Linked DNA regions of Homo sapiens. The protein of the gene in region 1 interacts with the protein of each later gene in a pairwise test. Each region holds a gene or a part of one and is shown on either strand. Other genes may lie near its edges.

Region 1 (3,821 bases):
CATGAAAAGTGCTTTCCCCAAGGACACGTCTGCCAGCTCCCAGCAGGGAGAACCTCTCCTGTGTTCACAACAGTGGATGGGGTGGGCGGGAAATGATCCCCTCTTCATGTTCATTTCCAGCCGCTGGGGCTGCCCACTTCAGCGATTGTTGCTTGCTTGCATTACCTTTGTCTCAAGGTGGGGCTTTGGCAGGCTACTGTCCCCCCTTCCCCTAGGGGCAGCCTAAATTAACGGTTACATCTCCATGGGTCTCACACCTTCTCTGGGGACCCACTGGTCTCCTAAACTTGCTAATGTCACAGCAGTTGTGAATATGTTAGGGATCTGGTGGTGCGGTGGTGACTCAAGAGCAGAGATTTCCTGGGCAGGGCAGTGGTATCTCCTGTCTCAGTTCAGGCCTGAAAGGAGGGCGGGCATGCCTGTGTGAGCTGGCCACCCACATCCTTGTCCCTGGGACGTTCTCAAACTGCCACTGTTAGTGTTGTCCTGCATCATGAGGGCAGAGGGACTCCCCATCAGTTGGATGGTGAACAGATGGTCAGAGGGGTGAGGGCAGCAGAGAAGTACTCCCACTTACCCTTTCCATGGGGTTTTGTGTTCCTCAGCACTCGATCCCTGCCAAACTCTTGTTGTTTTTCTTTCCTGCACTCTAGTTTCTTTCCATGGGTTCTTCATCATATCCTGGCTGTCTTTTCTCAGTTTTCTGTTTGGATAATTAGTTACTTTGATCTTTCTGAGGAGAACTGGCATCTGAGGATCTGAGGTCCCTAGTAAGTGATCTTTTTTTTTTTTTTTTTTTTTTTGAGATGGAGTCTCGCAGTGTAGCCCAGGCTGGAGTGCAGTGGCACAATCTTGGCTTACTGTAAGCTCCGCCTCCTAGGTTTATGCCATTCTCTTGCCTCAGCCTCCTGAGTAGCTGGGACTTCAGGCGCCCGCCACCATGCCCGGCTAATTTTTTGTATTTTTAGTAGAGACAGTGTTTCACCATGATAGCCAGGATGGTCTCAATCTCCTGACCTCATGATCTGCCCGCCTCAGCCTTCCAAAGTGCTGGGATTACAGGCGTGAGCCACCCCTCCCGGCTGTAAGCGATCTTGAAGAAAATACTCTCCTTTTAAAAAAATTGATACATAATAAACATACATAGTTTGGGGTATAATACGTGATAATTTCATACATTCATATAATTTATAAAGATCAAGTCAGTGAACTTGGGATATCCATCACCTTAGAACCATTCAAATTCTCTATTTTGAAATGTAGAGTAGATGGTTGTAAACTATAGTCACCCTGCTGATCTGTCTAACGCTAGGTCTTATTTCTTCTATCAAACCATGTATTTGTACCCATTAATCAACTTCATTCTCTATCACCCACTCTCCCTGGCCTTTGGTAACCACCAGTCCACTCTCTATTTTCATGAAATCCACTGTTTTAGCTCCCACATATGAGTGAGAACATGCAGGATCTGTCTTTCTGTGTACCTCTTTTGATTTTTTACATTGATGATGTTTATTGCCACAAATATTGCATTCTTATTGCAATACTTGTAAGATTTTGGCATTCCTTGCAATTTTCCATTTTGAACACACATCTTGTATATCATTCTGGTATATTATTAATCTCTTGCTCTTCTTAAGTCCTGCAGTAAATGCACTGAATACCAGGAAGTATGCCCTGACACTTGCCAACAGCACCTTGAAAAGGAGGCTGTGGTAGCACCTGATGCTGGCAGAGAACCCCGTCATGTCTTGCCCAGGCAGTGTTTACTGTGCTGCTGTCCTAGCCCACTGCTTTATTTGAACCGTGTGAGGCATAACCTTTCAGTGGTCACAACACTGGCCAGTGAGTTCTGGCAGGCAGGCAGGCAGGCAGGCAGGCTGGGATCAGCATGGTTGGTCCAGTATGTGAATTTTTAATATAGAAAAAAAAAGTTTATTTATATATTATTATATATACTACTATATATATTATTATATATTATTTGTACTGTGGAAAACTGTGGCATATGTGGCCACATACATTCAATGTAAGTCTCTGATCGTAGGCAAGAAAAAACTTTGATAAATGTGTTTATTGTTTTACTTAATATGGAGAAACTCTTTGTAGACATAGCATGCTTCTAGTTAAAGTATGAGAACATTTTTTTCATCATCATATTAGTGAAATCTGACCATTTTAAATGTTGAAGTTTGTTTACATATCCCTTGCCTTTTTCCAGAAAGAATTTAAGGTAGATAAAGTCAAGTTGAGAAGTAAGCTCTTTCCTCTGAAGTTGACGTTTTGAAATTGTGGCTCAGAGAAGTAGTGGGTAAATGTCAAAGCAGTCTGGCCTCCCTTTTCTTCCTTTAGGTACCCTACTCCTATCTAACGCACACACACAATGGCTCAGGTAACTTTATCTATATCATTCCATATATAATTGTGAAGGGATTATCATAAATGTTAGTTTTATTTTCTTCATTATCCCAGTCCCCCTTAGAGGAAGAACCAGTTACTTAATTGTTTCTATGTGTGTGTTTGTATTTGTTTTTTCTAGTTCAAACAAATTTGGAGTATAATACATTATTTTGTTTATTTTCTTACAGAAAAAGCATGCTTTACGCTGTTATTGTCAAGCCATGCAAGTTTACAAAGGAAAAGGCTGGTCTCTTGCAGAGGATCACATTAATTTCACTATTGGGCGCCAGTCCTATACTCTTAGACAGCTGGATAATGCTGTGTCTGCTTTTAGGCATATTCTAATTAATGAAAGTAAACAATCTGCTGCTCAACAGGGGGCTTTCCTCAGAGAATATCTTTATGTTTACAAGGTGACTGCTTATTTTCATTCAGGAATAGATATTAAAACTGTATTTTAGTGTGAAAGTATTTATTTATTACCATATCTTACGATAGTTTTATTAGAATATATGTAGTTATCAGTCATAAAAAAGCTGTGGCAGGCTAGGCTTTTTGGCTATAGATCTTGGTTACATTGCCCCTTCCACAGTTCTTGAAAAGAGAATTTTAATATTACAATGAACACTTGATTTGTGGCTGTTCTTAGAATCTTAAAAAAAAAAAAGATTCCACAGGTTTTCTGGATTCTTTATTCATCATGCTTTTATAGACTCACAACTGATTTTACAGTTGGTTTTAAGTGGGTTCTCTTTACCATCCTTTGGAGATGGACATTCTATGTTCTTTTCCTTGTGAAAGATGAGGGGGTATGGATCTGTGGAAAGTAGACAGGCTATTATGGTGCAATGGAGAAAAATTAACAGGAAGAAGGACTGTTTCACTGAGGCAAGCAGATAAACATATAAAGCATTGTTTTATGGAAAAAATGGGAAGTTGTAAATTTTTTCCCAAGGCCTATGAATAGTGCATATTATATCTATCGTGCAGAAAATAACTACCTTTAGGGTCTAGACTTTATTAATTTGAAATTATATGGGTTAGAATTTTGGCAGATAGGATGCTATAATGAGTCATAAGAAGTAAAACGCTTACTAAAATAAGTTTTGCATATTTAACATCCAGGTAATTAGCTGAGTAACCTCAGTAAGATTCTTTTGAGGCAGAATAAATATCTGAAGTGCTTCTGAGTTGTAAAATTTTATGACTGATATGAGAAATAAAACTAGTAATTACATATCTTAATATTCTTGCTTAACATATTTTTAATGCCTTGTGTATTAAGAAACGAGGAAACAAATAAAAATACCATTTTCACAAAAACTACTTTTTTTCCCTTTTATATTTCTCTCAGAATGTAAGTCAGCTGTCACCAGATGGTCCTTTGCCACAGCTTCCTTTACCGTATATTAACAGTTCAG
Region 2 (3,821 bases), on another chromosome or scaffold:
CCATCCTCGCTGAAAAGACCATCACTGTGCTGGACGAGAAGGTGACCATCACAGACCTCGGGGTGCAGCTGGTGACAGGGCTGTCACTCTCCTTGCAGCTCAGCCCAGGAAGCAACAGGGCCATCTTTGCCACTGCAGTGGCTCAGGAACTTCTGCAGAGGCCAAAACAGGTATGGAGGAGGGCTTGAGACACACTTCAGCAGGGTCCCTCACCAAGTGGATCACACACCAGGCAGGCACCACGCCAGGCGGGTCGCACAATAGAGTGGGATCATATATCGGGCGTTTGTTTCTCCATCTGCAAAGGGCTCTTCTGAAGCAGGTGACTCCTCTGCCTCATGTTTCCCAGCTCCCCCATGCAGAGATGAAAAAAATAAATACATATATACATAAGGATTGCAACATGTGAAAAATGAGAAGCCATTAAGGGGCAGGAGCCCTGGAGGAAAGGCCCACCCCTCATCCACCATAGTGCAAGTGCATGCAGGTGGTCACCTGTGCTCTCCACACGCTTCCTGCTTCCATGAGGGCATGAGGGCACGTGCAGGCTCAGAGCAGGTGCACAGCCTGATGCCAAGGTCCTGCTGGAGCGGAGGGTGACAGACCTGCTGAGTGGGGAGCCTGTGGCGGGAGATCGCTTCCAGACCATTCATTGTTCAGCTCAAGGCAGAAACAGAGAATTCATGGAGATGTCAGTCACAATTTTCTTTTACTTTATTTGGAACCAGTGTGAGCTAATAGAGTGTGTTTTGTGTGTTGTGTGCATATGTATATGTGTGTTGTGTGTCTATGTGTTGTGTACATATATGTTGTTTTTGTGTGTCTGTGTATGCATGTGTGTGTCTTGTGTCAGTATTTTGTGTTGCTTGTTTTGTGTTGTGTGTTGCATGTGTGCTTGTGTTGTATAGGCACCTGTATGCATGTATATATGTGTGTTGTGAATGTATCGTGTGTTGTATGTATGCATTGCATGTGTCTATTTGTTGTTTGTATGTGTGCATATGTGTGTGTGTTGTGGGTCTGTGTCATATATGTTTTTGCTTTATGTGTGTCCGTATGCATGTGTGTCTTGTGTATTTTCTGTTGTGTGTATGCTTGTGTTGTATAGGTGCCTGTGTGCATGTATATGTGTATGTGTGTTGTGTGTATGTGTGTGATGCATGTGTTTGTATGTGGATACAATGGCTTACAAAGGGGACTGTTATAGGGGACCTTTGAATGTAGTAAGTTCTCCCTCATTAGAGGTGGATAAACATTATTTCTTAGAACATAGGAATTTGGGTGAAGCTTGCTTAATAACAAAACATGGTGGTTGCAGGTCATTAGTTCTTTTGCCCCATGAAAAGGGATCATCCTCATGTGGGGCAGCTGGAATCCCTCCGGCCCATATGGGACATTGTTCTGACTGCTTCCCTTCTGGATCAGGAGCCTTTTCTGCGCACTCTTCCTCGGCAGGGTGAGGTACCAGGCCTTCCCTGCCTTCATGCACCAGCTGCGGCTGTGGCCATGTTCAGAGGAGGCAGGAGTGCCACACTGGACTTGCTAAGGGGCACAAAGAGCCTTCCCATTTTCCCAGCCTGCACCTGTCACATAATGCTCCCCTCTCAGGCATGAGCTAATCTCCTAGTCCTTATACTACAGTCTTTGTTTGCAGAGTTTTGGGTTAGAAAACACTTGAAAGTGGTTGATCCCAATAACAGAATCGAATTCTTGGCCAAAGCAAACCTCCTTTTCTCAAGGAAGGATGCCAGCCGAGAGGCAAGTTACAGATAGCAATGAAGAAATAACCTGAGGCTTTTCTCTGTCTTTGTGGGTGATAACATCAGCGGACCACCAGCTAGGCGTTAAGGAAGGGATAAGATGCAGCTAGAAGAAGGCCAGAAGGCTAATCCGTTCCTGACATGCAGAGCTAAACACGCTACCCTGAGATTTGCTCCATGGTTGGTTTGCAGGGCTCTTACTCCCTGCCTGCAACTTGGCTCTGACAGTGGTAGTTTCAAGAACTCCGTTGTGCGTTTGAATGCTCTGCTCAGATTTCATGGCCGATTGAGAGAACCTGGTAAGTCAGTGTCATGTCCAGTAGCTTTTGCACTGTGCCTTGGCAAGGTTATCCGCTTAGCAGGTAGTCCAAGCCAGTGTCTAACAGAATAAGTATTTCTTGGCTGAGCTGAAGGAAAGAGCAGAGGCCACCAGCCACATTTGAGGAGACTTTCTTCTTACTTCCAAAGACTAAACAACAACTGTGTAAAATTACTTCTGTCATGGTCAGGGGCCAGTAGGTCATAAGAGAAAAAAAAATCCACTCAAGCAAAAGCTTAAATAACAAAGGATGTGTTATGAGGATTATAGGGATCTCACAGAACCCAGCTGCAAGACCTTGGAGGAAAGGGAAGGTCAGCACTTTCATGCCCACTCTCTCTCTCACCTGTGTTTTTATTTTGGTCTAATTCATTATTGTCTTCCTATGGATAAATGCCATGCCCAAACATTTGCTTATACATAGTCCATCAGAGGGCTTCATTCCCCAATTTTATATGTGCCCCCACTACACATCTTCCCAAGCATAACTTTGTCAGTCTTGTCTTTCTGGTTTCAAGTTCGAGAGAGAGAGAGTAATGCTGGCTGGCTCAGCATTGCTGAGATTGATGGCTCTAATGGCAGCAGCTGTCTCATTTCAATCAGCTGTTGCTGTGGCCCAGCGGGCAGGGTCATGGGCCACCTAGTGCTGTTCATCATCTCGGGCTTGGGGCGGAGCAGGTTCTCTGAGAGGGAGGGAGGGAGGGAGGAAGCAATGGATCTGCCACTGCTGTCAAGCATAATGTCATCTTCACTAAAATTAAAGGCTGGCATGAAATTGGAGGTTATCTCCAATGATCTGCCTGGTCAAACTATTTGCAAAGAAAGTTGGTCTAAATCAACAAAGTGAAAACAAGCTCTGGCTGCTTTTTGGTCTTCCAGTTTCCTCCAGTTGGGTTGGGTGGAGGAAGAGATGAAGACTCTCCAATCAAGATGCTTCTCCCTCTCCTGCTGTCAGGCTTAACTCCTCCCTCCAAGCCAAGACTATGGCCTGAGGCCAGGACAGATCCACTCCTGCAGACCCAGAAAAGGCAGGGCTGGCAAAACCACAGCCTGCAGCCCTGCAGTGGGACCTCATCTAGATCAGAGGCTTTTATCTGTATTGCCAGTAATCAGTGGAGACTCAGTATTACAACTTAAAAATAATGTAATAAATATTTTTCATTTGAATGTGTAACACTTGTAAATGATTCCACTAACCAGTAATTTCCTTTGTCGTGCAATTTATTATTGTTCAGAAGTTGATTCTGAACAGCCCAAGGGCCCATCTTCCTTTTATAACAACACCTACAGGAGAAAAAAAAAAAAAGCAAATCTTCTTACGGATTGTTTAATACTGGCCCTGTTTTGTCATTTTGTTGTTGTTTTATTTTGCTTTTTTGCATCTTTGTGAGAATTCATTTTCTTTTATACTCTTGGTACTTCTTATCGCTTATTTCTACACTGTTTGAAAGGTTTGTCTTTGTTCTTGTAGCAATAGTTTTGCCGTTGTGTGTCTACTGTACTAAGACTTGGGGCTCAATGAGCTTTTTGGCCCATTTGATTAACTTACATATTTTTCTCCATAGGAAGCAGCCATCAGTTGCTGGGTCCAGTTCAGTGATGGCTCAGTCACGCCCTTGGATATTTACGATGGGAAAGACTTCTCCTTGATGGCCACATCTTTGGATGAGAAGGTAGTCTCCATCCACCAAGACCCCAAATTCAAGTGGCCTATCATTGCTGCGGAAACAGAAGGACAAGGC

The links.
Region 2: the proteins of TRAPPC8 (region 1) and TMEM132D interact in a two-hybrid assay, tested with the Homo sapiens proteins (one large-scale study listed by BioGRID).

Annotation. Positions count from the first base shown.
Region 1 is NC_000018.10:31,873,472-31,877,292, reverse strand, and holds part of TRAPPC8 (trafficking protein particle complex subunit 8), read left to right. Parts: intron 1-2,588; coding exon 2,589-2,813; intron 2,814-3,754; coding exon 3,755-3,821. UniProt on the Homo sapiens protein: Plays a role in endoplasmic reticulum to Golgi apparatus trafficking at a very early stage. Maintains together with TBC1D14 the cycling pool of ATG9 required for initiation of autophagy. Involved in collagen secretion.
Region 2 is NC_000012.12:129,074,883-129,078,703, reverse strand, and holds part of TMEM132D (transmembrane protein 132D precursor), read left to right. Parts: coding exon 1-170; intron 171-3,628; exon of another isoform or gene 3,629-3,644; coding exon 3,645-3,821. UniProt on the Homo sapiens protein: Regulate neuronals morphology via inhibition of the WAVE regulatory complex (WCR), a complex that controls F-actin cytoskeletal dynamics.